Homo sapiens: one gene and its partners. The protein of the gene in region 2 purifies or fractionates together with the protein of the main gene of each other region. This does not show direct contact. Each region holds a gene or a part of one and is shown on either strand. Other genes may lie near its edges. The genes, in order: BTRC, IFNAR1, AP2M1 and PTPRS.

Region 1 (8,115 bases), on a different chromosome or scaffold from region 2:
AAATTTTAAAGCTTTAAAAAATGGTTTACTAATAAGTAGATGAGAGAGTTAAAGAGATTGATCCCTTCATACATAGCAGTGTGACTGGTAAACTTGTACTCATAAGCTCATATTTAAATATCTTCTGAATTGAACCTCCTTAGAAGTTCATCAGTAGCAATCAGTAGCAATGGCCATCACATATGTAAGAGCACTGAGTGTATAACCTCACGTAGTTCGTAGCTTTTCTTCTCTTGATGAGTAGTCTCTTTCCACCAGATTTATTATTTAATTGAACAAATTATAGGCAGGGAAGTTCTAGGAAACAACCTTTAATTACCTTGCAAAAGGAAGAATATTTTATAAATATAGATAGTAGCCTTTTAAAGACATTTTTTAGTTTTCCCTAAGTTGTGTATATCCCATAGAGTAAAGCATTGAGCCATTGATTGTCATTAAAGCCTAAAAAGAGTTTGATTCTAGGTGTTTCCTAACACTGCCTCTTTCCCATTCCTTCTTCTCAGACAATAGAATCTAATTGGAGATGTGGAAGACATAGTTTACAGAGAATTCACTGCCGAAGTGAAACAAGCAAAGGAGTTTACTGTTTACAGTATGATGATCAGAAAATAGTAAGCGGCCTTCGAGACAACACAATCAAGGTGAGGTCTATTCAGTTGTAGAAAGGTAGCAGAGGGAGCAAGAGTGACCACATTCATAGCGCAGTCTAAAGCATAAACTCTAAGCATTATTTCTAGAAAGTAAGTGAAGATTTTAGATTGTTTCCAGTCCCAAAGCCAAAATCATTTCCTTAAAGGACAGACATCAGCTTCCCCACTATACAAACGGGTAGTCCTAGGGTTAAATTCTCTTCTTGAAATGCACTGAATGGGCTGTTACTCTTTTGGCCATCACATAATTATAGACTACCCTGTTCCTTAATGAAAAGGATAAAAGTTTGCATTAGTACTGAAGCTATATGTGTGTGTGTGTGTGTGTGTGTGTGTGTGTGTGTGTGTGCGCGTGTGCGCGCGCGCGCGCTTAGCTATACCTATAGAAAATGCATTCCACACTACTCTGGGCTTTGATTATTTTGGGGGATCAGACACGTAATAGGACCAACAAGTCTCCACAGCACCCCATCATCACATTGATCAAAAGGATCTTATTTGCCATCCTAGATCTGGGATAAAAACACATTGGAATGCAAGCGAATTCTCACAGGCCATACAGGTTCAGTCCTCTGTCTCCAGTATGATGAGAGAGTGATCATAACAGGATCATCGGATTCCACGGTCAGGTAGAAAATTTCAAATGCTTTTTTGAACTCTGAAATATCAGCTCTGCTCTGTTCTTTGTCATAGATAGTAATTTTGTATATATCGGCACAGTTCTGAAACTAAAGAAGAATAAACCACCAGGTCCCCATCATTTCTGTCAGTCTAGAACTAGAAAACTTGATTTAGAAATGCTTGAGGTAAGTTTACATTTTCGCACATTGAAGAAACTACACATTCTATTTTAATTTGGAGGATCATCTATTACAGAAACTTTTCTTATCCTTATGGTAAACTTTGCATTCCTTACAAAAACCACCTCACGGGGGAATGATATGAATGCAATGAAGCCTTCCTTTCAGGTAGTGGTAACTGTAGTGCAGGTCTGTATTATCTCCTTTGAAACATGTACAGGTGAGCTGTGCTCTCTTTGCCAGCCCCTCCCCTGCCATCCCTGCAGTTTTTAATTGCAAGCTTCACTCAGGTAGGGGCCCTCAATTTCCAGAGGCATTAGTGATTTGATGACACAGCCATTATACTGCTGGAGTCCAGGATAGCTTGAGTTCTGGGTACCAGCAGCACTGCTGGGAACCTCTGTTAGGAATTTTGCCGTAAGCTAAAGGATTTAGCAAACATAATGCATCAAAAGTAACTTTAAAAAAAAAATAGACCTAGGAAAAAAGCGGTTAAGTGCATTGTTAGATACTCTGAAGTTAAATGTTTACCATTCCAAGTTATCCTCTGTGAATAGAAAAGACGGTTCCTGTTTTTTGTCTTTTGACTTAAAGGCATAGCAAGGCATAGCAAACTTGGCCCTTGTAGTTACTGACATTTAACATTTATTGGTGCTTGTGGAGTGAGTGCCCCACAGAATCTAAAACACTGCAGGTGCTAACATCATTTATAAGATAAAGAAAAAATGATATTCTATAAAAGGGGGCTAAACTGGAAAAAAGGAAATAACATGTTATAAAACCTTAAGTAAATACACAAAAATAGAATAATCAAAATATATAATCACACAAAATTCTCAAGCTATCCAAGGGCCCCACACTCTGCTGTGAAGCCCATATTTACAATGGGGGGTCTATTTTAAACCCCTACCCACTTCAGAACACAGAAATGGGGGCTTAGAATTAGAGTCATGGTTATCTTGGCCTTTGACCTTTATGATAAAACCTGAGATCCAGGGTAATCAAACTCAAATTCACATTACTAAGTATGTGACAGAAGCATCTTGGCCTATTTCATTTCTGGCTCCTGAGGGCTATCATTGGAATGGGCACTAATGCTATTGTTATTAATCAGATTCCTCATTTAAAATGTATCTTACTAATGGTATCAAATTGAATGTGAGAAGTTTTACAGTCTTCAAGTCTGGGCCAAATTATTAGGTGACAGTGGCTGCCACTTCATCCTTGCCCTCCACAACTTGCCCATATTTCAAGCAGTATGTCTTAAGGACACACTGGCAGCATCCCATCCCCTTCCTTCTCCCACTCTCCCAGTCTGGCCCTCTCTCTAAATATAAGGGGTGGAAGGGCGCATGATGGTCAAATATAGGTAACAGATTGTAGCTTGAGTACCATCTAAATCTCATCTATCACTTCCAGAGTGTGGGATGTAAATACAGGTGAAATGCTAAACACGTTGATTCACCATTGTGAAGCAGTTCTGCACTTGCGTTTCAATAATGGCATGATGGTGACCTGCTCCAAAGATCGTTCCATTGCTGTATGGGATATGGCCTCCCCAACTGACATTACCCTCCGGAGGGTGCTGGTCGGACACCGAGCTGCTGTCAATGTTGTAGACTTTGATGACAAGTACATTGTTTCTGCATCTGGGGATAGAACTATAAAGGTAATAAGGCATTTTTCAGTAAGTTTCCAACTTAGAATGGGGGAATTCATATGAAAATTTGATCAAGGGCAATTTCATATTTAAACGTTGCTACAGAAAAATGTAATATTTAATTCAGAGACTAGTCTACAAGTGAAAAGGTGTAATAAGTGAGACGTTGTGTGACAATTTATCCTAGATATTTTATTCCTATAAATAGTGGTGAGTGTGAGAAGAGACTAACCCTAGAAGAGTAAATCAATCTGAGGAATTCTCATGTGGTAACAGCCAACTGCAAATTAGCCTCTGTTACCATGAATTTAAATTGTCCTTTGTTTTATTTGTTTGAGAAGACTTCCCTCTAATGGTTCAGTCCTGTTTTCTGCTTCTCTAAGACTCCATTTGCCATAGATTTTACCAATAAAAGCACCAAATCAACTGCTCAATGCCATTTTCTTTTTCAGGTATGGAACACAAGTACTTGTGAATTTGTAAGGACCTTAAATGGACACAAACGAGGCATTGCCTGTTTGCAGTACAGGGACAGGCTGGTAGTGAGTGGCTCATCTGACAACACTATCAGGTGAGCAGCAAGTGCCTTGTATCATAAGGGATCAATATTATGCTCCCATTCATTATTAATGCACAGATCATACAAGTCTTCAATTTTGTTATGTTTATAATCAACTGTTTTTCCTTTCTGTAGCTTCTTACAGGTCAGAAGTTTGCCCCAGGCAGAGAAGCAGCACAGCAAAGCCTTTTGTTGCCCTTCTTTTTAAATTTCTCCTGTCTACCGTTGAAAAGTGCTAATAAACAGCTAACAGCCTTTTCTTTGCCATTGTTTTTAAGAAATGAAAAGAAAGATTTGTTTCCTTACTAGAAATTATGTAATTTTTGTCTTAGCATTACATAATTGGCCAGAGAGTTACCTGTCTTTGAAATTATGAAGATTTCACAGTTGGAAGTCCTTTTTGGGGTTTTCCCTTCACAAAGATGAATGACATAGATATGATTATAATTTGGAAGATTTATCCATCCTCTCCCTTCAGTGAAGTATTAAAAGGATGAAAAGGCCATTAAAAAAGAGCTACTGTTTGTTATATCTAAGGAAATTATTCCTAGAAATCACTTGAATTGCTCTGAAAACGTACAGTTTTTATAATTAGTACACAAAAGTTCTTGAGAACTGACTTTGCATTTCTATTCTCTGAGAAGAGCTGTCCTGGACAGTGGTGAAAGAAGTGTCTGCCGTGGCAGAGGGGGAGGTGCTTTGTGAGAACAGGACATCACTGATAATCTGTATCTCTTTCAGTTTGGTGACTTCAGGAAACTGCTTTCTTAGCTTGGTCATTTCCTTCTCAGGCAACTGCGTGCATTGAATTCGTTTTTATGCCTGGAAGAACCTGTTTACAGAATTATGTAAAGCCCTGTGCTTTGAAAATACATTTTACATTTGAACTTAAACCTACATATTTCTGTGTGAGTTATATAGCAGAAAGGAAATAAATTACATTGAAAGCAGTACATATCTGTGTGGGTGGTGATTGATTTTATTTTATGAATTTTTAGAAGGCATATGAGGTGTATTGTTATAACATTCCAGGCTTAGAAAAGAATACGTGAAAATTCACCTGACTTAATTTTCTCTTCCAGATTATGGGACATAGAATGTGGTGCATGTTTACGAGTGTTAGAAGGCCATGAGGAATTGGTGCGTTGTATTCGATTTGATAACAAGAGGATAGTCAGTGGGGCCTATGATGGGTGAGTGTGCTAACAGAGTGTAAAAAAGAGAAAATCTACGTCTTAATCCTTCCTTATGTTTATGGTGTTAAACATAACCATTCCTTGTTTCTAAAAGCTTATAGATTTTACACAAAATATCTGATACCATATTTCTTTAATCCGTGTATTTACCTCTCCTTGGTTTAGTGTCCTGAAATATTCTTCCCATTCATTTTATTATACTTGTTTGCACATGGTTGTCATTCATATTTTGGTTATTTGGTTATGTATTTGACTGTTTTGCCCTGTAAAGCAAAGAACAAGAAAAACCCAGTGTTAACAGGCTACCCATGTAAAAGGGTAACCTGTTAACAAAACAGAAACACTAGAGGGCAGTATTTGGGGACTTAGTGTGGTAAGATCTTGAATTTTGATTTCTTGGGTTTTTTATCTCTTTGAGTAATTTTTAAGAGTACAGTTCTCTTGTCATCACTTGTCATCCTAGCATTTCATTTATGAGTTTAGTCATCTTTATTTTCTTCTAATTTCTAGTGGTTATGGAATCCATTAATTTTGTGAATGGACCCCATGTCCACCAATCCTAAACACAGAGTAAATTCAAACAAAAGTAGTCTGGGCACAATGGCTCATGCATTTAATCCCAGCACTTTGGGAGACCGAGACAGGTGGATCATTTGAGGTCAGTAGTTCGAGACCAGCCTGGCCAACATGGCAAAACCCAGTCTCTACTAAAAGTACAAAAATTAGCCAGGTGTGGTTGCGGGCGCCTGTAATCCCAGCTACTTAGGAGGCTGAGGCAGGAGAATTGCTTGAACCAGGGAGGCAGAGGTTGCAGTGAGCCAAGATTGCGCCACCACACTCCAGCCTGGGCAACAGAGCGAGACTCCGTCTCAAAAAAAGAAAAAAAAATAGTTATTCACTTAGGAAGAACTCTTATCATTTCTTTTTGTCAATCTGCCTGATTTTGGCAGCTTTTTAAATATCAGAAACTAACAACATTATTTTAGTTCATGAGTTAACTACACTGATACATTCATTAGCCAATGCAAGCAGCAGGAAGTGTAGACTGCTCACTTCTTCTGCTTTGGGACAGCCATCACTGTTACAACCTTGGGAAATTGTTCAGAGTGTGGTGACATGTTCCAGCTTGGTCAAGACAATATTTTCTTATTGTCCTGGCTTTGATCTGTACCCACCTGTCTTGGAATTTGTCTGCTATGTACCTTGAGGAAACATGGCCTATTAAAAGATTTTTGGAAGAGCTACACTTATCTTATTTAAATCAAAAGATGAGGGCTTGCTTATATAAACTCCATTGCTCTTACATGGACCCCAGTCCCTCAGTACATGTGACCTGGGCCACTCTTAGAAGTGCCCAGGAAGAGGATGCTTCACAGTTGTAGATTTCTAGGTCTGTGTAATATCATTAAAAGGTCTAATGTACAAGATCTCCTCTTGATCCCAAAGTATGGTATAACTTTACTGTTAACTGTCTTCAGTTTGGTTAAAGCTAGCCTGTTTCTCATTTGTAGGTTAATCACGTACATTTGAACTATACTCACCATCCATATTTATTGCCATGAATTTCTGCTATTCTTCCCTGCCTTCTCTTACATTTGCTTTTAACTAACATTTTTGTCCCCTTTTTGATCTTTAGAAAAATTAAAGTGTGGGATCTTGTGGCTGCTTTGGACCCCCGTGCTCCTGCAGGGACACTCTGTCTACGGACCCTTGTGGTAAGAGCCTTGCTGTTTAGAGAGCATTGGAGAGCAGGTGGGGGAAGAAATTAAACGTTGATGTGCTGTGGAATATGGATTTGAATTTAATAGTTACAACCTCACAAAACCTACAACTAAGTGGTAAGGCAACCAGTACATGACAATAAAATATGTTTATATAATTCCTTTCATCCAAAAATGCTTTAGAGACTATATATGGAGAGAAATGTGGCAGCTGTTTAACAGCTGCACAGCAACTCTACACAACAGTTTAGTGCAGGGAGTGAATAAGAATTCTGTATCCACCAGAAACAGCAGGGGGTACTAAGGGAGAGAGAATATAATTATTCAAATTGGAACCTGTCCAAAATCTGAGGACCTGTACACCTGTGCCTTCAAAAAGTGCCCTGGGGGCCGGGTGCGGTGGCTCATGCCTATTATCCCAGCACTTTGGGAGGTCAAGGCAGATGGATCACCTGAGATCAGGAGTTCAAGACCAGCTTGACCAACACGGTGAAACCCCATCTCTGCTAAAAATAAAAAAAAAATTAGCCAAGCATGGTGGCAGGTGCCTGTAATCCTAGCTACTCAGGAGGCTGAGGCAGGAGAATCACTTGAACCTGAGAGGCGGAGGTTGCAGTGAACCAAGATCATGCTTGCACTCCAGCCTGGGCAACAAGAGCGAAACTCTGTCTTAAAAAAAAAAAAAAACTGCCCTGGGAATCTGCATGAATCCCCCTGGTCAACCCCTTAGTTCTGCAGCCTATTCATGAGGTAGTGCCTCCAGCAACTTGAGCCCATCTTTTTTGTTCCCCATATACCCCCTTTTGACATTTGGGGAAAAAAGTGATTCAAAAGGAGGAATGCACTAAATTATTTATCATGTTGTTAGCCAAGGGCCCAGATTGATAAATGCTGCTTCCATTAGAAAATTAGTTGGAGCAACAGGGTGGACAGACACCACTCGGAGAAAAGATGAGAGCAAGCATTTGAAGCCCAGTGTTCTAAATCCTGACTGTCATCATTTAGGCATTCTTGGCTCTGGAGAAGAGAAAGAGGTTACATTTCTTGTCTTCCTTGTTGGATTTATGTGTGTATGTATAAGACAGGGTCTTCCTCTGTCACCCAGGCTATAGTGAAGTGGCACTACATGTTGCTGATGTATATCAATATTTCATTTCTTTTGAAAATTTGCTGAGTAGTATTCTATTGTATGGTTATACCCATTCACTGATTGTTTCTCGTTTTTGGCTATTAACAAAGTTTCTATAAACATTTATGTAGAAGTCTTGGGATGAATGTATGCTTTTTGCTTTTATTTCTCTGAGGTAAATACCTAGGAGCAGATGACTAGGTCATATGGTAAGTGTATGTTTAAAATTTTTAGAAACTGCCAAACTGTTTTTCAAAGTGGTTTACCCTTTTACATTATAGTATATAGCAGTGTATGAGAGTTCCAGTTACTCCACATTCTTGCCAGTACTGAGCACAGTCTGTAATTTAGTCATTCTCATTGTGGTTTAATTCGTGTATCTCTAATGATTAATAATGTC
Region 2 (8,115 bases):
AATTTATAGGCATTTATCATTTCTTAAGCTCTTAGCTGTGTGCCAGGCAGTAATCTAAGTGTTTTAAAGGTATAAACTCATTAAGCTTTCAGAGCAGTGTAGATACTGTTATGCTTAGTTAACAGACAAGGAAACTGAGCAACGGAGAGATCAAGTAACTTGCCTGAGGCTGTATAGGCCAGTCCGTGGAGGAGTGGGAAGTCAAATCCTGAGTCTGGACTAATAGCCTTGGGGCTTAACCAGACTAGACTGTTTTCCCAAAGGCCAAACAATTTAAATTCCTGATTGTCCACTTGTATGTTAAGGGCCTAATTATCAGTATCTTTCAGTTAACTGTGAGCCCAAAAATATCTGAGACCGGTCTGAAATCAACTTAGAAAGTTTATTTTGCCAAGGTTAAGGATGCATTCATGACACAGCCTCAAGAGGTCCTGGCCACATGTGCCCAAGGTGGTCAAGGTCCAGCTTGCTTTTATACATTTTAGGGAGACATATCAATCAGTACATCTAAGATGTACATTTGATTGGTTCGATCTGGAAAGGCAGGACAACTCAAAGCAAGGCTTCCAGGTCATAGGTAGATTTAAAGATTTTCTGATTGGTAATTGGTTGAAATCAATGGAAAGGAATGTCTGGGATGTCCTAAGGGGTTGTGGAGACCAAAATTTTATCATGCAGATCAAGCTTGTCCAACCCACAGCCCACTGGCCGCGTGCAGCCCATGATGGCTTTGAATGCAGTCCAACACAAATTCGTAAACTTTCTTAAAACATGAGGGGTTTTTGTTTTGTTTGTTTTCTTTCTGTTTTTTTGTTTGTTTGTTTTTAGCTCATCAGATATTGTTAGTGTATTTTGTGTGTGGCCCAAGACAGTTGTTCTTCCAGTGTGGCCCACGGAAGCAAAAAGAGTGGACACCCTTGATGCAGATGAGGCCTGCAGATAGCAGGCTTCAGAGAGAATAGATTGTAACTGTTTCTTGTGAAACTTAACGTCTGTGTTGTTGTTAATGGTGGTTAGCTTTTTCTGAATTCCAGAAGAGAGGAGGGTATAATGAGGCATATCCAAACCTCACTTCGCATCATGGCCTGAAGTAGTTTTTCAGGTTAGCTTTGGAATGCCCTTGGTCAGGAGAAGGGGTCCATTCTGATGGTTGGGGGACTTAGAATTTTATTTTTGGTTTACGTAACTATCTACTTTTTCCCCAAAAAAAATCATGTTGAAAACTCAAGACCTTAAGTTTACAGCTCAAGCTGATCCTGAAAGTTATCTCAGTGAGATTGTAATGTTGCTCAGTCTTTCAGAAGTTGTATAAATGTACCTTTTAGCCTAGTAAATGCAATTCTAGGACTCTAGATTAAGAAAACTATCCAAAATATGGGAAGACATTTACTTACATATTTGTACAGATATCTATATTTGGATTTATGTCAGACTTAAAGATATAGTAAACCATTTTGGTCGTGAAAATGAATGTGAAAGGTTGAAAGCAACCAAAATTATAAATGCATTATATATATATTAGATTAAATGTCCATTTATACATTTACATGTGGGGTAATTAATTGTTAATATACTAATATAAAACATTTTAATATACTAGTAAATTAATATATTGTATGTTAATGTTACATAACAATTTATGAAAAAATTATTAAAAGGAGATTGCCAATAATAATAGAGCAAAATCTGTGAAAACTAAAATCCTGTTTAATAACTTTATTTCCAAGCCCCTGTCCATTTATCAGTCAGTTATTTGTTGGTCTTCCAAATGCCAACATGCCTGTAACTTCAGGGTCTCCTTCTTTTAGCAGTAAAGGATTTTTTTTCTCCCTGAGGAAATCACTAGCTGTACCCTATAACATTTTCTATTCTTGTCTCAAGGCCCAAAATTACTAGAATTATAATATTCTGCACAAGATATTGTAAATACTACAAATGCCATCAGATCTTTTGTTAAACTCTGTAAACCCAGTTGCTACCCTTTGGCTGCATAGAATCTATAAATTCTAACAAATGGATGAGAACCAAGTTAAGAATTCTAGAGTGGGATAAGGGGATGTGATGTATTCTATTCAGGGATGAAGTTTTAGAGACTCCAAGTATGAAACAGAAAATTGAGGATGGGGAGACCTGATGGGTACCACATTAAGTTTAAAAAAAAAAAAAGTGTTTTCTCAGCTGTCTCCCCTTTTGACCCCATACTATAAGATCTAACTGGAAAGAGCAAGAAGCTGTCTCAGTTAAGAAAGTTCTATACAAGAACCCCTGTGGTAGAACAAGTCTACAACAAGATAACATGATTGCCCCAAGGCAGAAGTAAAAGAAATATTGTAGGAACCATAAATGAATTTAAAAGCTGATCTTTTAAAAAATATATAACTTATCAAAGTGAGAGATCAGTCCTTTATGATATTTAAGGAGTTCCTGTGAATGCACCATTATGCTGGATACTCTGAAAAAATGCAAATCAAGTATGAAGCGATATAAATTCTGCCCTTAAGGAACTTGCAATCTAGTTGGAGATTTATGTTTAACACAAAGAAGCAGTTTTTACAAATACTTCTTTTGAGGATTCTGGGAAGATGGCAGAGTAGAAAGCACCAGGAATCTGTCTCCTCACCTAGACAAGAATTGTACTGGCAGAATCTGATGTAACTATTTTGGAACTCTGGAGTCTATTGCAGGCTTGCAACTTCCAGGGGACAGACTTAGATGGTAAATTGCAGTTAATTTTGGTCTATTTGAGCTCTTAGTACAGTAGCAGCTACCCATCTTCCACCTCTCAACCCTTAGCAGACAGCTGTGCACGTTATTAGAGCAATCTGCACACAACTTACAGGAATCAGGTGGGCAAAAAGAAACACACCATCCAGATATCTGGGATCTGTGCTCTTGATTGGTCATTGCTCCTTCTCGTCACAAAAGCGCAAAGAGATGGGCGGTTGTTGTTGTTACACCTTACTCATTGTTACAACCCCCTCCCCACTCACTCCCCTGCCCCATGGATTTAAAGGGCTAGAAATCTCCCTCTGCTTCATTTTTCTCTTTCACTTTTGGGAGCCGGATATTAAAGACTAGGACATTTAAAAACAACTGCATTTATGGGGAAAATTAGAAAGTCACTGTACATACCTAGGGAAAGGCTCAGGAGAGACCTTAAGTTTATAGCTCAAGCTGATCCTTGGCACAGGATTAACAACAATTACACAGCAATTAAACAAAGCAAACACACACACACACAATGTAGTCTGGGAGAGTGATGTTAGCAAGATGGCCAACTAGAAGCCCCTTCTGCTCATCCCCTCATAAGACAGCCAGAACAACAAATAAACAACTACATTTTAGCAAACTTAACTAAGAGTGCTAGAGTGCATCAAAGAAGTAACAGAAATCCTAGTGAGCAGAGAAAAGTGGGATGGCCACATGGAGAATGGGAGGAAATGCCAGGATTCCTAGGATCATCTGGGAACGAGGAGGAACTTCTTCCTATGGCAAGGAGATAAACAAGAAGATCCCAGCTACACCATGGGCACCAACAGATCTCACCACTGGGGTTCCTTAGAGTCCAGACAGCAACTAAGCCAAGCTGAGGAAGCTGCCTAGAGTCTGCACAGCTGTGTTCCCTCCAGAGAAGGAGCCAACACTGTGCTCCACCTGCTGTGGCCCACACAGCTACTGTGCCACTCCACCTTGGAACTGGAACTACTTCTGGAGTGTGTCTTGCTTCGGGGACTTGTAGCCATGGCTTCCTTTCATCTGAACCACGCCAGGCTGGTGGCTCAACATCCCTAAGCTAAACTTTAAGCAGCTGTTACACCCTTCCCTGTGGAGTCAAGCAGAGGTGGAACTACTCCACCTACTCCTACCCCACTGCCCTTGGGCTAGAGCTGAAGCAGTATCCTATTTCCTGGGAACACACTACCTTGGCCACCCAGAGCAGTCATGCACCCCTGTGCCTAAGCTGAAGTGGTATACGGCATTCCAGGGAAACAGGGCCTGAACCACCCAGAGCAGTCACACTCCCCGGGCCTCAGCTGAAGGAGCACATCACTCCCTGCAGAATCAGTGCCCTGGCCAAACCGAGCAGCTATGCATCCCAGGGCTGAGCTGATGTAGTATCCTATGTCTCAGGGAAACAGAGCAGTGGCTGAGCTGAGACACCCTGTTCTACAGGCCAAATAACTGTAGTACCCCGCTTCCCTGGAGCTGGACTAGTCCTCTAGAGCCTGAGCTGCTGAGACACTCTGAGGAGTGGAGTCATCACTGTGCTGTTCCCTACCCCCCATTCCCAGCCCAGACAACAGCTATGCTTCACCATTTTGTAGTACTTGCTGCTGCTGCTACACTTGGCCTCACAGTCTGGGGTACTGCTTATCCCTAGCTATTCCAAGATTTAGAGTCATGACTTCATGGTGCCTCATCCCTTGGGACCTGTGTTGCCACTGAGCCCTATTAGCTCATATTCCCAAATTAAAACCATACCCTGCTCCCCAGGCCCAAACCTCCAGAGAACCCCTTCTTTATAGTCAGGCCAGTGCTATGCCCTGACCCCCATAGGGGTAGAATCAAAGCTACAACCCATTCTCTGGGCCTAAGCTGCCAGGAAGCACCTCCAGGTCACAAATCCTGGCTCTGTGAGCAACTACGTCCAAGCCCTGCCACAGAGAGCAAACCCACCTCAGCAACCAAGTGTCTCAGTAGGTTTGTGAGATCCTGAGCCTAGGACCTTTGCCCAGTAGCCACTCTGAATACCTTCATCTGGAATCAAGAGCTGCTGCAGCTGCATATATATAGCCCCTGTCAGACCTGACACCAAGAGGTGTTGCCTTGGCTGAGTCTCCCCATTGTGGGGAAGACAAGAATAGGAGGATCCTAAAAGCCTTCAACACTGAGAACATTAACAACCTACACTACCACTGCCACAAACTTCTGCAGCCTAGGCCCCTGAGGCACCCATTTACTACTGACATTGAACACAGGTAAAGCAGCTGCTTTACCATACCACTGCATCTGTCAGGAAACAGTCACCACACCCTTCGAAACCAGCATACTGAAACCCAACTGCTAATAAAAGACTTTATCTTTGAAAGCCACTGTCTGTAAAGTTTGGAAGAGGTAATTATCCTATCAACACAAAGACACAAAAACATGAAAAAGCAAGGAAATATGACACCACCAAAGGAAAGTAAGAACTCTCTAATGGTGGCCCAATGAAAAGAAGATCAACAAATTGCTGGAAAAGGAATTCAAACTAATGATCTTAAGGAAACTCAACAAGATACAAGAAAATACAGATAGTTCAATGAATCAGGAAAACAATTCACAATACAAAAAATTCAACAAAAAAATTAAAACATGATGAAAAACAACCAAACAAATCCTACAGTTGAAGAATTCAATGAATTACATTTAAAAAATACAATAAAGAGCTTCAATAACAGACTTGGTAAAGCAGAAGAAAGAATCTCTGAACTTGAAGATATACCATTTGATATTACTTAATTGTAGAAAAAACAAGTGAAACCCTACAAGACTTATGGGACATCATTAAAGGAACAAACGTTCATACTATGTAAGTTACAGAAAGAGGAGAAAAGGTAAGAGGCATATACAAACTATTTAATGAAATAATAGCTGAAAACTTCCCAAGTCTGGAGAGAGATACAGACATCCAGATCCAGAAAGCTCAATGATTCCCAAATAGATTTAACCCAAAAAGGTTCTCTCCAAAGCACATTATTATCTGTTGTCAAAAGTCAAAGACAGAGAAAGAATTCTAAAAATAGCAAGAGAAAGGCATCAAGTCACATTTAAGAAAATCCCCATTCAGCTAACAGCAGATTTCTTCACAGAAACCTTACAGTGCAGAAGAGGATGGGATGATATACTCAAACAGCCAAGAATGCTATGCCCAGCAAAACTATCCTTCAGGAATGAGGGAGAAATACAGTTTTTCCCAGACAAGCAAAAACTGAGGGAATTCATCACTGCTAGACCAGCCTTATGAGAAATGCTCCAGGGAGTCCTACATCTGGAAGTGAAAAGAGAGCAGTCAGTATCTTGAAAACATGGAAAAGTATAAAACTCTCTGATAGAGCAGATACACAAAGGAGAAAGAGAAAAGAATTAAACCTTATCAAACCATCAAACCACAATGATAAATAATAAGAGAGGAAGAAAGGGGCAAAGGATATTATTAGAAAACTTTAACAAAATGACAAATGTAAGGGCTCAAATATCAATAATAATCTTAAATGTAAATGGATTAAATTCCATACTTAAAGAGACTGGCGGAATATTTTTTTTTTTCTTTTTTTTTTTTTTTGAGACGGAGTCTCGCTCTGTTGCCCAGGCTGGAGTGCAGTGGCGCGATCTCGGCTCACTGCAAGCTCCGCCTCCCGGGTTCACGCCATTCTCCTGCCTCAGCCTCCTGAGTAGCTGGGACTACAGGCGCCCGCTACCACGCCCGGCTAATTTTTTGTATTTTTAGTAGAGACGGGGTTTCACCGTGTTAGCCAGGATGGTCTCGATCTCCTGACCTCGTGATCCACCCGCCTCGGCCTCCCAAAGTGCGGAATATTTTTTAAATGACTCAATTATATGCTTTCTATAAGAAACCCACTTCACCTATAAAGACACATATAAACTGAAATTGAAGGGATGGAAAAAGTTATTCCAAGCAAATGGAAACCAAAAGCTGTCAGGAATTGCTATACTTATGTCAGATTAAACAGACATTAAGTCAAAAACTGTAAAAACAGACAAAGAAGGTTATTATATAATGATAAAGGGACCAATTCAGCAAGAGGATATAACAATTCTAAACATACATGTACCCAACACCAGAGCACCCAGATATATAAAGTAAATATTACTATACGTAAAGGGAAAGATAGACTCCAATATGATAGTAGTTGGGGACTTCAGCACCCCACTCTCAGCTTCGGACAGATCAGCAAACTCCAAGTACAGTGAACTCAAAGAGACCACACCAAGAAACAGTCAAACTTTTGAAAGCCAAAGACAGAGAAGTGACTTGTCATACACAAGGGATCTTTGATAACATGATCAGCAGATTTCTCACCTGATACTTTGGAGACCAGTGTATTCAAAGTGCTAAAAAAAACAAAACCAAAAAACTCAAAACCCTGTATATGGCAAAATTGCCCTTCAAAAGCATAAGGAAATTAAGATGTTCTTAGATAGACAAAAGCTAAGGGAGTTCATTACCGCTAGAACTGCCCTGCGAGAAATGCTTAAGGAAGTCCTGAAAGGTGAAATGAAAGGGCACTAGACAGAGGGGACAGTGCAGATTCAGGCAGGTGCAATGGCTTCTGGGGAAGACCCAGCCAGTGGGGCTATTGCCAGCATCCAGTCAGCTGCCACCTTCCCTGACCCCAGTGTCAAGTGATGCGCAGGGTGATCCAGGTGTGTGAGGGGCAGCTGGATGTCCAGACTGAGGGCACTGGTGCCATCAGTGGCTATCCTACCACTCAATTCATGACCCAGGTGGTGATCCAGGGTGATATCACCAGTTATGATGCAGTTAACACAGAGGGGAAAGCTGCTGAGATACACTATACTTTCCCACCCCTGCAGTGGGAGATGGGGCAGGGGGTACCACATCAGGGAGTACAGCTGCTGTTGTTACTACCCAGGGCTCAGAGGCACTGCTTGGGCAGGTGACTCTTCCTGGCACTGGTCAATTATTTGTGATGATGTCACCACAAGGAGTACTGCAGGGAGGAAGCCAGCACTTGATTGCCCCTAGGACTCAACCTTATTTATTTGGACGTAACACCATTGTAAGTCAAGAAGCATCTCTATCTATCTATGAACATACAATGTGAAATCAAATTGAGGCCATAAAACAGTTGAACCTCATCATAAGAGTGACTCATCGGTGTCACTTCTAAGACCAAGAAAAATTCTATTTTTATGCAGAGACCATTTGTTTTTTAATTAAAAGACAACTCTATTTCAAAGAGGAAAAAAAATCAACTCTTTTTTCAGCTCTCTCAGATGCAGAAATGTAATTATCAGCATCCCTGTGCTGGGAGCAATCATTAGTTTTTTTAGATTTTTAAAATATACTTCATTATGTTTCACTGTATT
Region 3 (7,852 bases), on a different chromosome or scaffold from region 2:
CTCTGGTTCCTGCTGCCTGTTTTTCTTCCTCAGAGAGCTTGAGATAAAGTCACAGAATGGGCCTGTGGCAGTGCTCTTCATTTGGCTCCCTGGCTGATGGGCTGGCTTGGCCCTTGCGGGCGTTTGTCCATTGGCTGGTGGTGTGGCATGAGCTAGAGCTGCAGCTGTGGCAAGGCCTGGCCTGTCTGAACCTGGCTGGCTACACCCCCCACCCCAGACCCCCTCCTGCCTTGGATGGACTGGGCAAGCCAAGGCCAGGTCACACGCCGCCTTGCCTGTCTTGTCTGCTTCTGCCTCACGGTGTGTGCCGCCCTCCCGGTGTGTTGTGTGTCTAACCCTCTCTCTCGTTGCTATCACTCTCCTCTTCTTGCTGGCGTCATTTCTCTCATCCCATCTCATTGGCTGCCGTAGCAATAGGTAAGCGGCCTCTCAAGCTGCTGCCCAGGTACAGGTGGGTGGGGGCCTGCCCCCATCGTTTTCCTGCATCCTTTTTCATTCCCTCAACTTGCTCTGGAGTTGGATCCTGGGCAAGAATGGGTAGCACAATTCCATGGCCCCTTGGTACTTCTCCCTCCTTTGTGACTTCTGAAGCCATGCTGGCTTTGTCTAACATCTGGAGGAGTCGGCCCTCCCCACTGGTGGGATCACTAGCGGGAGGACTGAAGAAGCAGTGTCTCTTTCTGTCCTGGACCTGGGAGCTTACAGGGAAGCTAGATAAAGCTGGGAAATTAGGGCCAGCCCTGGGAGTAAGGAATATCTGTCTCTAAACCTGATGAACCTCACTTTATTAAGGTTACATCAGCCTTAATAGTTGACTTCCCTATTTCTTGTGGCCTTTAGACACTAGCCCAGCTCAGGCACTCTTCCCATGCCTCCACAGGGAGTCATAAGAAGGGAACCACTCCAGTGGTTTAGGCATTGGCTTTCTTTGGAGTGTGTGTGTCAGACTTCTGCAGAAAGGAGGGTGGGGCTGTTAGCAGCTGTGGTTGATCCTTATGGGGTAAGGTTCACCTGGGTGCTGAGCAGGCCCTATGCACTCTTTTCCCTCAGGAGGAACGCAGTGGATGCCTTTCGGGTCAATGTTATCCATGCCCGGCAGCAGGTGCGCAGCCCCGTCACCAACATTGCTCGCACCAGCTTCTTCCACGTTAAGCGGTCCAACATTTGGCTGGCAGCAGTCACCAAGCAGAATGTCAACGCTGCCATGGTCTTCGAATTCCTCTATAAGATGTGTGACGTGATGGCTGCCTACTTTGGCAAGATCAGCGAGGAAAACATCAAGAACAATTTTGTGCTCATATATGAGCTGCTGGATGGTGAGGCTGGCGGGCTGGCACGGCAGCGGGCGTAGGGTGGGAAAAAACCAGGCTGGGCCTGGCCTGAAGGTGGGTGTAGGTCCGAGGCTCTGGTACACTCTGAACTTTCTTTCCTGAGTATTTGGTCTCTTGGGCTAGGATCTCTATGCCCCTCAGAAGGCCAGTTCACATCCAGACCTGAAGGCTGGTCTGAAGTAGAACACAGAAATAGGCCAGCAGGTGATCTTCCAAGGGGCTAGGAACCTGACTCAGGTTTGGTGGCTGAACCTCCTGTATTCATCCTCTTTCCTTTGTGGCTTGGACCTTAGTTCACTAACTGTCCACCCAGTTTTCCATCTCAGCAGCTGCTTCAGAGCCTGGGGGAGAGTGAGATATTACAAGCCTCTTGGGGTGCACTGTTATCTCTGTTCCTCTGTAGAGTGTGATCTAAGAGAAGGTGAATACTTCCACCTTCCCAATGTCTATTTTCTGGAGAAAACAGCTCAAAGCTTCTTGACTTGCCACCCACTGGCCATGTGACTCTTCTATTGATTTCTTTTCTTTTTTTTTTTTTTTTGAGACAGGGTCTTGCTCTTGTCACCTATGCTGAGTGCAGTGGTGCAATTGCAGCTTACTGAAGCCTCGACCTCCTAGGCTCAAGCAATCCTCCAGCCTTAGCCTCCTGAGTAGCTGGGACCATAGGCACATGCCACCATGCTTGGCTCATTTTTACTACTTTTTGTAGAGCTGGGTCTCGCTATGTTGCCCAGGCTGGTCTTGAACTCCTGGGCTCAAGTGATTCTCCCACCTTGGCCTCCCGAAGTGTTGGGATTACAGGCATGAGCCACTGCACCTGGCCTTGATTTCTCTATTTGAAAAAAATCAAACATTTGAATTGTTTTCCTGTAAAGCACAAATCACAGAATAAATGCTACAAAGCTAGAAGACTTTCTTGCGGATGATCCCACATGGGCTTTGGGAGCTGTGCCGGTCAGATGTGTAGGCCCAAGTAGGGGCTGGAATGAAGAAGCTCTGTCCAGGGGCTGATGGTTCCCTTCTTTTTGCAGAGATTCTAGACTTTGGCTACCCACAGAATTCCGAGACAGGCGCGCTGAAAACCTTCATCACGCAGCAGGGCATCAAGAGTCAGGTACTTGAATTGTGCAGACTATAGTCAGGGTGGAGTCCAATCTCCCTTCATCTCAGCTGGCCCCTGAGCCTTGTCTGAGCTGACTCATGAGCCCTCCCATGACAGGAAGTGCTGGCCTGAGCCTCCTGCCATGATTGCAGGCCGATTTTGCTCTGTGTGGTCCTCCCACTGCAGGAGCAGCCAATTCAGCATCTCTATTACCAGGAATACAGCTCAAGCAGTTTCCTTTTGCACTGAGGGGTGGGGGAGGAGGCCTGGTCTTGAGGCCTGGTATTCCTCAGGAGGAGCGAGCTTGGGCCCTCTCCTCTAGGATCCAAGCCTCATAGCTTTCTCCTCCTTTTCTGCCTCCCTTGCTGCTTCATGTGGGCACCTCGTTGGCCCTGCGGCCTCCAGCATCAGGTAAGCTCTTCCCTCAGCTTCCACCCTTGCAGCTTTGCTTTGTTTCTCCAGGCCCTGCCCTTTGGGGCTTATAGGGGAAAATGGATTACAGGTGGGGACTAGAAGGGATGGGGAATGAGGGTGGAGTGGGGATAGAGACAGGATGATTAAAGGGACAGAGGAGTGAGGCCATTGCTGTTTGTTTCTGCCCTCATGTAGACAAAAGAAGAGCAGTCACAGATCACCAGCCAGGTAACTGGGCAGATTGGCTGGCGGCGAGAGGGTATCAAGTATCGTCGGAATGAGCTCTTCCTGGATGTGCTGGAGAGTGTGAACCTGCTCATGTCCCCACAAGGTGAGGTCCCTCTCACGACAAAGTTGGAGGGGGCCCAGGGCAGGATCCTGGGCCTGCCTGCCTGACTCCGCTGCTCCCCATTTATCTGTTCCATCACCAGGGCAGGTGCTGAGTGCCCATGTGTCGGGCCGGGTGGTGATGAAGAGCTACCTGAGTGGCATGCCTGAATGCAAGTTTGGGATGAATGACAAGATTGTTATTGAAAAGCAGGGCAAAGGCACAGCTGATGAAACAAGCAAGAGGTGCCTGAGGCAGGAGAGCTGGTGGGAGAGGGTGTCCCTTGGAGGGCTCAGTGGGGTCTAGTGAACCACAAGTTTCTTCTGGATTTCATTCCCACTGTAATTGCAAACTCTGTTCCTGACGGTAAGCCTGGCTGTTCGCTCTTGACATTAGTGCTACGAGAGATGAGGGGATCGTCCTCAGAGAGCAAGCCCCTTTGTTTGGTCCCTAGGACCAAGGCCTTTTCTGTACATACTGACAGCCTCTGCCCAGTGTGCCTGAAACACCCAGGTCCCTAGCAGAAGGAGCCCCAAGAGATGAGCTTGCAAGGCTTCCCTCTCATCCCAAGCTCTGGGGCAGACCTCCGAGTCACAAAGCTGCATTCTAGCAGCTTTTCATAGTCTCTGGTGCCAGCCTGGGGTGGAGTGGTCTCCCAGCATGACAGCTGTCATTCTCCTGTACCAATGAGACCTCTTCTGCCCCTGCTTGCAGCGGGAAGCAATCAATTGCCATTGATGACTGCACCTTCCACCAGTGTGTGCGACTCAGCAAGTTTGACTCTGAACGCAGCATCAGCTTTATCCCGCCAGATGGAGAGTTTGAGCTTATGAGGTGCCATTGGGGTGTGAGGAGGCAGCTAGTGCTGCTGGCAGACTGGGGAGAGGAAGTGGGTCAGCTCTTTGGTAACCTTGCTTCCCATCCCTTAAGGTATCGCACAACCAAGGACATCATCCTTCCCTTCCGGGTGATCCCGCTAGTGCGAGAAGTGGGACGCACCAAACTGGAGGTCAAGGTGGTCATCAAGTCCAACTTTAAACCCTCACTGCTGGCTCAGAAGATCGAGGTGAGGACAGGGGGCTCAAGGAGGAGGAAGAACTTGTCCCTAGGAATAAAGGTAGCTGATGTCACAGCTTGACAGAGCTCCCTGACAGGTGTGTCACTTCTAGGTGAGGATCCCAACCCCACTGAACACAAGCGGGGTGCAGGTGATCTGCATGAAGGGGAAGGCCAAGTACAAGGCCAGCGAGAATGCCATCGTGTGGAAGTGAGTCTTTCCTTCATTAGGCCACAGCAGGGCTCAAGATCCCAGTATACCCTCTTGTTTTCAGCTTTGATCCTTCTGAATGAGGGGCAGGGGAGTGTGCCTGTTTGCTTTTCTAGGAGCCTCTGCTTGTACTGTCAGTCTTTATACCTCCATGTGAGTATGTACACGCCTGCATTTGGGTTCATGCACGTGCTTATTTTTTAAGATGCTTTGGCATTTCCCTTTGTAATGTATACATTACAAAGGGAATACATTGCCTTTGTAATGTATCTGTGAAGCAGACAAAGCAAACGATAGCATGTCCAAGTGTCTAGGCAGAAACTGCATCCTGTTGTTCTAAAGAAGTAGACCCAAGTTTCCATAGCAAGTGGTTAGCAGGGTCCTGACCACTTCTCCTTGTTCTGGCACCTCCTGCAAGCTCCTGGGCTCTCTCCTTGCTTGAAATGGGCAACTGCCCTTGAAACTCCTCCAAGCCCCAATGGGCTGCCCATTGTCCCTGTGTTCCCAGGATCAAGCGCATGGCAGGCATGAAGGAATCGCAGATCAGCGCAGAGATTGAGCTTCTGCCTACCAACGACAAGAAGAAATGGGCTCGACCCCCCATTTCCATGAACTTTGAGGTATGGCAGAGGAGGGGCCTAGAGTCATGCCAGGGTATGCTGGAAGACCTCTTAGAGATCATTCCGATAAACTGCTGCACCTTAGAGGTGAGGAAACTGAGGCCTAGAAAGAAGAACTGGCTTTAATTCATAGATCCATTCTTCCCCTTTCAAGCCTCTTAGTAGAAATTACTATTTGTGATGAGGCAAATCTTTTACTTCTCTCGGCTTGTCCTAACACAGTTCTTTCAAAAAACTTAGATTGTTTAAATGCCAGGTAAGACACAAAGTTTACTTACAGACAGGATAATGGGCTGACTTTGCTTTGCGCATGTTAGACATAATTTTCTCCACCTTATTTTTAAGTTCATAATATTGAGCAGGATAAGTATGTTCTAAAGCAGTTCTTTGGTTGCTGTCTCCTGCTGATTAAAGGAACTGATTCAAGGTGTCACAGGTAGGGCTTTCTTCTTTAGTCACCTCTTAGAAGGTCCCACGCCGCCCCAGCTTCTTTCAGGACCCCAGCCATACAAACACCTGTAGTAGCGATGAAGTAGGGCAGGGCAACGGGACTTCCCAGAGGAGAGCGGCTGTAAGAGGAAGGCCACATTTCTAACTAGCTCTCCTTGCCCAGGTGCCATTCGCGCCCTCTGGCCTCAAGGTGCGCTACTTGAAGGTGTTTGAACCGAAGCTGAACTACAGCGACCATGATGTCATCAAATGGGTGCGCTACATTGGCCGCAGTGGCATTTATGAAACTCGCTGCTAGCTGCCACTAGGCAGCTAGCCCACCTCCCCAGCCACCCTCCTCCACAGGTCCAGGTGCCGCTCCCTCCCCCACCACACATCAGTGTCTCCTCCCTCCTGCTTTGCTGCCTTCCCTTTGCACCAGCCCGAGTCTAGGTCTGGGCCAAGCACATTACAAGTGGGACCGGTGGAGCAGCCCCTGGGCTCCCTGGGCAGGGGAGTTCTGAGGCTCCTGCTCTCCCATCCACCTGTCTGTCCTGGCCTAATGCCAGGCTCTGAGTTCTGTGACCAAAGCCAGGTGGGTTCCCTTTCCTTCCCACCCCTGTGGCCACAGCTCTGGAGTGGGAGGGTTGGTTGCCCCTCACCTCAGAGCTCCCCCAAAGGCCAGTAATGGATCCCCGGCCTCAGTCCCTACTCTGCTTTGGGATAGTGTGAGCTTCATTTTGTACACGTGTGACTTCGTCCAGTTACAAACCCAATAAACTCTGTAGAGTGGAGTTGCTGGCTTAGTGTTGATGTGGGAGCTACATGGGGAGGGAACTGGTGTTGCTCTCCGTGCAGTTTTCTGTACTGAATACTCTAAAGGCTCTTTCCTTGTCTTGTCCCAGTTAGGCCCCTCCTGGGCCATCCAAGCCCTTATCCTTGTGGGTTCTGGGCCCAGGTTTCCTGGCTCCTCTTAGAAAGCCTCAAGGGCATGCAGCCGCAGCGGGCCCCAGTACCCTGGGGATAGATTCTTTCCCTAGCTCCTTTTTATTCCCCCTGGTCCTCGGACTCCTAGGCTCAAGAGATCTTACCTGCCCCAGCCTCTGGAGTAGCTGGGATCACAAGCACGCACCACCACAGCACCCAGCTCTTTCTCTAATTCTTAGGCAGATGTTTTCTAATTAGATTAAGCATAAATTAAGTGTGAAGTTTACATTTGGTCTTGTAGCCATCCTAAGAAATTGACCTTTTAATTCCATCATTTACCCAAGCTTCCCAAATCTTGCTGACTGGGTGGTAGGAGGAAAGATTTGCAAGGAGAATAACATAATGGACTGGGCGCGGTGGCTCACACTGTAATCCCAGCACTCTGGGAGGCCGAGACGGGTGGATCACCCGAGGTCCGGAATTCGAGACCAGCCTGACCAACATGGGGAAACCTCGTCTCTACTAAAATTACAAAATTAGCCGGGCGTGGTGGTGCATGCCGGTAATCCCAGCTATTCGGGGGCTGAGGCAGGAGAATCGCTCGAACCCAGGAGGTGGAGGCTGCGGTGAGCCAAGATCACGCCACTGTACTCCAGCCTGGGCAACAAGAGCGAAACTCCTTCTCAAATTAAAAAAAAAAAAAAAAAGAATATAATGAATCTCCATGTCTCATCACCCAGCTTCAACTATGATCAATGCGTGGCCAGTTCCTTAATATCACATCCAGTTTGTGTTCACTTAACCAGGTGTCTTATCAAATTTTTCCAGATAAGGTCCATTGTGGTTGGTTAATGCTCCTCAAATTTTAAAAATTGATGTTTCCCTTCAGGTCTTGCAATTTTGTGGAAGAAACCAGAGTTCTGTAGTTTACCACATCAGAATTTGCCTGTTGTCCCCATGAAGTCACTTAACATATTCCTCTTTACCTGTATTTCCTGTAAAATGGTTCAATATCGGGATTGATGCCTCATGATGGCAATGTTTAATCCAAAGGGATGAATGGGTAATAATGTAATTTTCGGTGCCACTTTTAGAGACCAATTGGAGGAATATTCACGTTAAATATAAAGCAGTAGCATCATTTTGGAGGAAATTCCTAACTTCCCGAGGGAATCGGTGAAAGGAAATAGCCTTTTATTGGCATTTATTGAGTGCAGAGAAGTCTGCTCAGGGTGTAGGTAGGGAATAATTTATACAGGCCACGTTGTCCTGGTTTTCTTGCCCTTTGGCGGTGGATTTGGTCGTGCCCTGGGGTGGTGGAAGAACTGAATGGGCTTAATTCACAAAGGTCGGCTGAATTACACAGTGAAAAGGCGGTCGCGGCGGGGAGGCGGGTGGCGCTGGCCACCAGGCTGAGAAGCCCGTAGGGTCTGG
Region 4 (7,920 bases), on a different chromosome or scaffold from region 2:
CCCATCCGCTTCCCCCCGGTCCCCGCAGCCCAGCAGCCCCTGAACGCCACGTGGCTGTCCCTGCAGTGCCGGTGTGGGCCGCACAGGCTGCTTTATCGTCATCGACGCCATGCTTGAGCGGATCAAGCCAGAGAAGACAGTCGATGTCTATGGCCACGTGACGCTCATGAGGTCCCAGCGCAACTACATGGTGCAGACGGAGGACCAGTACAGCTTCATCCACGAGGCCCTGCTGGAGGCCGTGGGCTGTGGCAACACAGAAGTGCCCGCACGCAGCCTCTATGCCTACATCCAGAAGCTGGCCCAGGTGGAGCCTGGCGAACACGTCACTGGCATGGAACTCGAGTTCAAGGTGCCAGCGGGGTGGAGGCTGCTGTGGGCGGGGTGGGGAGGAGGCCCAAAGAGCCGAAAATCAGGCCCGCCTCGAGCAATGGGGACTAGAAGGTGGTGGCAGGGTGCCCCTACCTACCTATCCACCATTGGTGCTCCAGCTGAAAGCATAGCCTTCCTCATCCTGATGGTGGCCTCTGGCTTCCTCCTCCCCACAGCGGCTGGCTAACTCCAAGGCCCACACGTCACGCTTCATCAGTGCCAATCTGCCTTGTAACAAGTTCAAGAACCGCCTGGTGAACATCATGCCCTATGAGAGCACACGGGTCTGTCTGCAACCCATCCGGGGTGTGGAGGGCTCTGACTACATCAACGCCAGCTTCATTGATGGCTACAGGTAGGTGCCATGCCTTTCCCACCTCAGGGCCCCAGAAGGAGCCCATCTCTACTCTCAAGAGGCCTCCAGTCTTGTGGGAGACAGAGCTGGGGAGATACTGGTAGCCCTGAGCTGTTTAAATACACATCTTTAGATGTATATTTAACTGATGGCTGCTGTCCGTGAATCTTTGGGTGTGTGTTTAACTGATGGCTGCTGTCCATAATGTGATTCCATCTGTTCTATCAGTGGTTCTCAATTGGGGTAATTCTGACACCCTGAGGATATTTCTTATTTTCATGAGTACTACTGGTACTGCCTGGGTGGGGACCAGGCATGCTGCTCAGCATCCTACAGTACACAGAACAGCTTGTCTCAGAGAACAATCCAGCGCCAAATGTCAATAGCACTGAGATTGAGAAATCCTGGCAAAGGAGGGGAGGGTGTTCCTGGCAGAGGGTGCCACATGTGCAAAGGCCCGGGGCTGAGAGCTTGGCCCACGCAAGCAACTGAAAGTAGGGCAGTGGCCCTTGAAGGAGATGGAGGGAAGAAATCAGGAGAGGTTAGTGGATAGTCCCGCAGCTTTGTCAAGGGATTTGAATTTGTCATGAGACTGGTGGTTTCCCCACATGCAAAATGGGATCACCAGGAGGGGAAGTGGTGCACCCAGCAGCCATTCCTGGCAGGCAGTGGGGTGGTAGGTGTAGCTGTCACTGGCTTGGTCCTGACCCTCCCGGGCAGCATCAGGTGAGTACCACGCCGGGTCTCCCTGCCGGCCCTGGGCTCATACCCCCAACGCCTGCAGGCAGCAGAAGGCCTACATCGCGACACAGGGGCCGCTGGCGGAGACCACGGAAGACTTCTGGCGCATGCTGTGGGAGAACAATTCGACGATCGTGGTGATGCTGACCAAGCTGCGGGAGATGGGCCGGGTGAGCTAGGGGCCACAGCAGGGAAGGGCGAGGGCCAGACTGTGGCTCAGACAGCGCTGACCACGGCCGCCATCTCCTCCACAGGAGAAGTGTCACCAGTACTGGCCGGCCGAGCGCTCTGCCCGCTACCAGTACTTTGTGGTAGATCCGATGGCAGAATACAACATGCCTCAGTATATCCTGCGAGAGTTCAAGGTCACAGATGCCCGGGTGAGTGAAGAGACAGACTGGCGGGAGGGGCTGGAGCCTTAGTGATCTGGAAAGGGCTGCCCTGGTTGGTGATGGATACAAAGGCCAAGGGTTAGGCATAAGCATTGGGAATCAGGAGAAGTGTCAGCTGACCAGTTGGCCACTTGCTTCTACTGCCACATAGGTGGAAGAGAGGGTCTTATCTCTGTGCTGACCCTGCAGTGTCTCCACTCACTAGGGAACATGGCCCCAGGGGATGATATTCAAGGAAGTGAATGGGGCTTTCCTCTGGAAGCAGCCACCTGTGGAGGATGATGTTAAAGGGCTGAAAGGGACTTGAGGGATTGAGGGTGAGGGGTGGTAGACGGTGGACAAGGAGAGTCAGATGGTGGGGACTGGCACCGTTGGGTGAGGAGAGATGAGTATGGATGGTGTTGGCTCAATGAAGGACTGCAGTGTCAGGTGGAGGGAGAAAGGCCAGGTATTAGGTGGCAACAGATGAAGACTCATAGTGGAAGGTGGCCCTGTTGGGTGACAAAGGATCAAAGTTAGTGGTGGAAGATCGACGATGGTAGAGAACGCAGTGAGGGGATGATAGAGGATGGGGAATGTTGGCCAAGATGATGCCAAAGGATGGTGAAGGCTGCTGAATGAACAGCAATCACCGGGCATTGTGCTGTGAGCAGTGCAAGATGGTGCCCTTGGAGGGGTGGAATCTGGAATTGGAGAGAAGAACATTCGCATAACAGGATGGAGAATGTCAGTGGAATGTGGTAGTTTGGGTCAGTGAAGGGTGATGCTTTATCAGTGATGGATGGAGGAAGACAGAATTGGAGAAGGGCAAATGTTTGGCCAGCAGGGGGTGGAGAAAATCAATGGGAAATACTAGGACTAAGAAAGGACAGTAAACAATAGTCAATGGTATAAACCAATGGGTGGTACAAGATTGAGGAAGATGGGGTTGGGAAAGGAGATTTTAGAAAATGTAAAACATCAGGGAAAGATGGTACATTGGATGGCAAATGGTGGCAGAGGATAACAATTTTGGATGGCACCATTTTGATGGTGGAGGATGGGATTAGAACAAGGCAGATGATGGGGAATGGAGAATGTCAGTGGAAGATGGTACCCTTGGATGGTGGAGAGTGATGAATTGTTAGTGATGGATGGTGGAAAATGGCACCATTGAGTTGTGAAGGATGGAAGATGGCAGAGAATGATGTGGTTGGATGGCACCACTGGGTGGTAGGAAAGGAGACTGCAAAGAGGAATGGTTGAGTAGTGGGGAATGAAGACAGTCAGTGGAAGATGCCATCACTGAATGGTTAAGGATGAGTTACCAAGAGGGGATGGTGGTGGATGATGGAAGATGATGGTGTTGGGTGGAACTCGGGACGGCAGAAGGTAGTGAGTTACCAGCAGTGGGTGGTAGCAGTGGCACTGTTATTGGATGGTGGAAGATGATGGTGTTGGATGGTGGACGATGAAAGATGATGGCACCATTGGGTTGTAGAAGATGAGTCATCATTGATGAGCTATGGACAGTGATGGAGTTGAGTTGTGCTGTAGGGCCCCGAAATGGCACAGAGTGGAAGATGACAGAGGATCATGGTGAATAGGAGCTGGGAAGGGCAGAGCTGGTTGCACTATGGGATGGCAAAGGATGGAGGATGGAGGTGCTGGATGTCATACAGGAAATGTGGGGAGAGGAACAGCTGGGTGGCAAGAAGTGGTGAGGATGAGGTTGGAGCATCTCTTATGGAAAGCAGTACCATTGGATTGTGAAGGACGGTAAGTTGTCAGGGTAAATGAATGGCAGAGAGTGTACAAAATGGGGGTGAGGGCCGGGCCTGGTGGCTCATGCCTGTAATCCCAGCTAATCGGGAGGCTGAGGCAGGAGAATTACTTGAATCACTGGAGGTGGAGGTTGCAGTGAGCCGAGATCACGCCATTGCACTCCAACCTGGGCGACAAGAGTGAAACTCCATCTCAAAAACAAACAAACAAACAAAAAATGGGGGTGAAGATAGGGAGGATGGAGAAAAACCCCCATGGCCGCTGCTGACCTGATAACAAGATTGGGCTCTCTGCACTCTAGGATGGCCAGTCCCGGACTGTCCGGCAGTTCCAGTTCACAGACTGGCCGGAACAGGGTGTGCCAAAGTCGGGGGAGGGCTTCATCGACTTCATTGGCCAAGTGCATAAGACTAAGGAGCAGTTTGGCCAGGACGGCCCCATCTCTGTCCACTGCAGGTGAGCTCCCTCGAGTGTCCCAGCTTTTGGCCCTGCTGGGGAAACTGAGGCCTGGTGGGGACAGCCCCAAGCTTAGGCTGTCCCATCTGGGCTGTTAGAGTCCTCGGGGAATCGGGTGGTCAGATCAGGGCTCCCCAGCACCTGCCCCTGAATGGCTGTGCTCACTTTACTGCCACCAGTGCCGGCGTGGGCAGGACGGGCGTCTTCATCACGCTTAGCATCGTGCTGGAGCGGATGCGGTATGAAGGCGTGGTGGACATCTTTCAGACGGTGAAGATGCTACGAACCCAGCGGCCGGCCATGGTGCAGACAGAGGTAAAGATGGGACAGGGAGGGGAGGCAGCCTGGCCTCACGCCCCGACTGCCCCTAAGCTCCAGTTTCCTCCTCTGTGAGATGGGTACAGCCACCTGGGACTCTCTGGGTCACTGTGGGTAGACGGTCCACAGACCCCTCCCGCACTGGAAGGGGACCAGTAACCCTTTTAACACAACAGTCAGCTGAAGGTCAAAGGCGAGAAGTGGCCCTTGGAGTGGACAGAGATGGGCTCATTGCAGTCCCCAAGTCACAGCAAGTCTGTGGCTCAGCCTGGACCCTGCCAAGAACCACTGACCCCCAAGTCCAACCAATGTACAGATGGGGAAACTGAGGCCCAGACTCCTAGCTTCAAGGGGAATGTTCCAGTGGAGGGGGTTCTGAACAGCAGCCATGTCTTAAAAGATGAGTAGAGGGGACCCGGCGTGGCAGCTCACACCTGTAATCCCAGCACTTTGGGAGGCTGAGGTGGGAGGATCGCTTGAGCCCATCCTGGGCAACACAGAAAGACCCCATCTCTACAAAAAAAATAGAAATGAGGCTGGGTGTGGTGGCTTATGCCTGTAATCCCAGCACTTTGGGAGGCCAAGGCAGGCAGATCACCCGAGGTCAGGAGTTTGAGACCAGCCTGGCCAACATGGCGAAACCCTGTCTCTACTAAAAATACAAAAATCAGCTGGGCATGGTGGTACACGCCTGTCATCCCAGCTACTTGGGAGGCTCAGGCAGGAGAATCACTTGAACCCAGGAGACAGAGGTTGCAGGGAGCCAAGATGGCGCCACTGCACTCCAGCCTGGGCAACACAGCGAGACTCCGTCTCAAAATAAATAAAAAAGAAAAGATGAATAGGGCCTCCAGGCAGACGGGAGGAGAGGGCGTTCCGGGTGAAGAGCCTGGCTGTGTTAGGCAGAGAGGTGTGGCATAGCTCACTTCATTGTGGGAGGGCCGTGGGGGCCAAAGAGACCTTCTGCAAGAGACACGCACAAGGCTGAGGAGCTTGGCCTGCTCCTGAGGGCGATAGGGAGCCCTGGGAGGCGTTAGAGCAGCGGAGGTACTAACAGGTCACCTCTGCTCCCCCAGGATGAGTACCAGTTCTGTTACCAGGCGGCACTGGAGTACCTCGGAAGCTTTGACCACTATGCAACCTAAAGCCATGGTTCCCCCCAGGCCCGACACCACTGGCCCCGGATGCCTCTGCCCCTCCCGGGCGGACCTCCTGAGGCCTGGACCCCCAGTGGGCAGGGCAGGAGGTGGCAGCGGCAGCAGCTGTGTTTCTGCACCATTTCCGAGGACGACGCAGCCCCTCGAGCCCCCCCACCGGCCCCGGCCGCCCCAGCGACCTCCCTGGCACCGGCCGCCGCCTTCAAATACTTGGCACATTCCTCCTTTCCTTCCAATTCCAAAACCAGATTCCGGGGTGGGGGGTGGGGGGATGGTGAGCAAATAGGAGTGCTCCCCAGAACCAGAGGAGGGTGGGGCACAGACCATAGACGGACCCCTCGTCCTCCCCCAGCGGTGGTAGGGGGACCCGGGGGGCTCCTCCCCGCTCTGCAGCCTGGGGACACTGGGCTGGGACCAGAATCCAGCTTTCTTTTAAAACTCTCAGTGTAACTGTATCCCGTGACATTTCATTTTTTTTAAATAGTGTATTTTTTTTTCCATTTTTTTTTTTAAGAGAAACAAACAAAAGACTCGCCAGTCAATGACTTTCAAAGAGAACTAACTTTGGCTTATTCATATTCTGTTCAAAGACAGTCTATTTTTTCACTGTAGAAAGCGTCCTTGTGTGATAGTTACGTTCGCAAACGCGCACGCCAGGCCCATGGCTGTACCTTGGCTTTTTTTTTTTTTTTTTTTTTTTTAATTTTTCCTACCATCAGAAAGTGTGCTTTGCTCACAGAAGAATGGGATGTCCTTTTTTCTTTCTTGGCTTTTTTTTTCCCCCTTTTTGTTTCATTTTTATAAATTAAATTTTCAGACATATCAAATACAGTTCTGAGGGTAAGGTCATGGGGGAGCTCGGACCCAGTGGCGTTGGGTGCGGTTGAGGGGGACGCTGCTGTAAGAGGAGAGAGATGACAGTGGTCCTCCTCTGAGAGCCTGAGCTGTCTCCCCGTCTCCCGCCCCCAAGGAGACAGAGAGGATCCTACTTCTTCGGGGACAGTGGCTGTATGGCTGTGCTGCCCCACATCAGGGACCCTTTCCCCCTGGGACTGTGGGGCAGTTTGGGAGCAAAACCAGAAGGACAGGCCCCCCTCTACCCGCCTACCCTGAGCAAGCGAGTTGTTCCTCTTTGTACAAGGGCAGGTCTGCGGTTACTTTCAACACTGTTTATTCCAGCGGAAGCAGCCGGGTGGTTTTCCCACCCCCGTGTATGTAGATATATCGACTTTGTATTAAAGGAAGATCGTCTGACCCCGGCCCATTGTGGAGTCTTTGTTGCGCCCCTGCCTGTCCAGTTTCATCCCTGGGGTGGAGGTCGGTGGGGTCCTGGAGAGCTGATCTCGTTTCCTTGTGTGAACAGTCAGAGGAGGAGTTGGCCCAGAGAGGTGGTGGTGCTTGTCCAAGACCACACACCGCTGAGGCGGGTGGATCACAAGGTCAGGAGTTTGAGACCAGCCTGGCCAACATGGTGAAACCCAGCCTGGCCAACATGGTGAAACTCAACTCTACTAAAAATACAAAAATTAGCCAGGCGCAGTGGCGGGCGCCTGTAATCCCAGTTACTCAGGAGGCTGAGGCAGGAGAATCGCTTGAACCCAGGAGTTAGAGGTTGCAGTGAGCTGAGATCATGCCATTGCACTCCAACCTGGGTGACAGAGTAAGACTGTCTCAAAAAAAAAAAAAAAAAAAAAACTCAAAACACCGATGAAGTGGCCAGGCCAAGATTTGAACCCAAGCCCTGGTCCTGTAGGGGCTGCCTCGTGTTCTCATTCTAATAAGTGACCATGACTGAGAATTCACCATGGGCCAGACACTCTGAGATAGAAGTTACCAGCCCCTTGGCCAGGCGCGGTGGCTCACGCCTGTAATCCCAACACGTTGGGAGGCCGAGGCAGATGGATCACCTGAGATCGGGAGTTCGAGACCAGCCTAGCCGACATGGCAAAACCCTGTCTCTGCTAAAAACACAAAAATTAGCCAAGCATGGTGGCACCTGCCTGTAATCTCAGCTACTCAGGAGGCTGGAGCAGGAGAATCACTTGAACCCAGGAGGCGGAGGTTGCAGTGAGCTGAGATCATGCCATTGCACTCCAGCCTGGGCGACAGAATGAGACTCCCATCTCCAAAAAAAAAAAAAAAAAAAAAAAAATCCCCATTTACATATTAGGAAACTGAGGCTCAGGGAGGGGCACACAATGAGTTTGAGGTGGAGCTGGGATTCGTACCCCAGCCCATCTCACCCGCAGCCCTGAGCATCACACGGTGCTGCCTTCTCGAAGTGCCCTGGGGAAGAACTGAGTCCGTGGAGGGAAGCAACAGGTTGGGGACACTCTGCTCCACCCCTAGGCCACTCAATGAGCAG

The links.
Region 1: the proteins of IFNAR1 (region 2) and BTRC purify together in Homo sapiens (affinity purification with western blotting; 5 studies listed by BioGRID and IntAct, with this or other methods). This does not show direct contact.
Region 3: the proteins of IFNAR1 (region 2) and AP2M1 purify together in Homo sapiens (affinity purification with western blotting, with the first as the bait; 2 studies listed by BioGRID). This does not show direct contact.
Region 4: the proteins of IFNAR1 (region 2) and PTPRS purify together in Homo sapiens (co-immunoprecipitation; 2 studies listed by BioGRID and IntAct, with this or other methods). This does not show direct contact.

The regions. Positions count from the first base shown.
Region 1 is NC_000010.11:101,531,792-101,539,906, forward strand, and holds part of BTRC (F-box/WD repeat-containing protein 1A), read left to right. Parts: intron 1-503; coding exon 504-641; intron 642-1,160; coding exon 1,161-1,279; intron 1,280-2,869; coding exon 2,870-3,119; intron 3,120-3,562; coding exon 3,563-3,681; intron 3,682-4,751; coding exon 4,752-4,862; intron 4,863-6,501; coding exon 6,502-6,580; intron 6,581-8,115. UniProt on the Homo sapiens protein: Substrate recognition component of a SCF (SKP1-CUL1-F-box protein) E3 ubiquitin-protein ligase complex which mediates the ubiquitination and subsequent proteasomal degradation of target proteins. Recognizes and binds to phosphorylated target proteins.
Region 2 is NC_000021.9:33,327,317-33,335,431, forward strand, and holds part of IFNAR1 (interferon alpha/beta receptor 1 isoform 2 precursor), read left to right. Parts: intron 1-7,296; exon of another isoform or gene 7,297-7,785; intron 7,786-8,115. UniProt on the Homo sapiens protein: Together with IFNAR2, forms the heterodimeric receptor for type I interferons (including interferons alpha, beta, epsilon, omega and kappa).
Region 3 is NC_000003.12:184,177,807-184,185,658, forward strand, and holds the end of AP2M1 (AP-2 complex subunit mu), read left to right. Parts: intron 1-411; coding exon of another isoform or gene 412-417; intron 418-1,050; coding exon 1,051-1,316; intron 1,317-2,362; coding exon 2,363-2,445; intron 2,446-2,838; coding exon 2,839-2,844; intron 2,845-3,042; coding exon 3,043-3,178; intron 3,179-3,278; coding exon 3,279-3,420; intron 3,421-3,889; coding exon 3,890-4,009; intron 4,010-4,105; coding exon 4,106-4,241; intron 4,242-4,344; coding exon 4,345-4,442; intron 4,443-4,950; coding exon 4,951-5,062; intron 5,063-5,675; coding exon 5,676-5,810; 3' UTR 5,811-6,285; downstream 6,286-7,852.
Region 4 is NC_000019.10:5,204,397-5,212,316, reverse strand, and holds the end of PTPRS (receptor-type tyrosine-protein phosphatase S isoform 1 precursor), read left to right. Parts: intron 1-66; coding exon 67-352; intron 353-548; coding exon 549-727; intron 728-1,511; coding exon 1,512-1,638; intron 1,639-1,722; coding exon 1,723-1,848; intron 1,849-3,925; coding exon 3,926-4,080; intron 4,081-4,259; coding exon 4,260-4,395; intron 4,396-5,474; coding exon 5,475-5,543; 3' UTR 5,544-6,809; downstream 6,810-7,920. UniProt on the Homo sapiens protein: Cell surface receptor that binds to glycosaminoglycans, including chondroitin sulfate proteoglycans and heparan sulfate proteoglycan.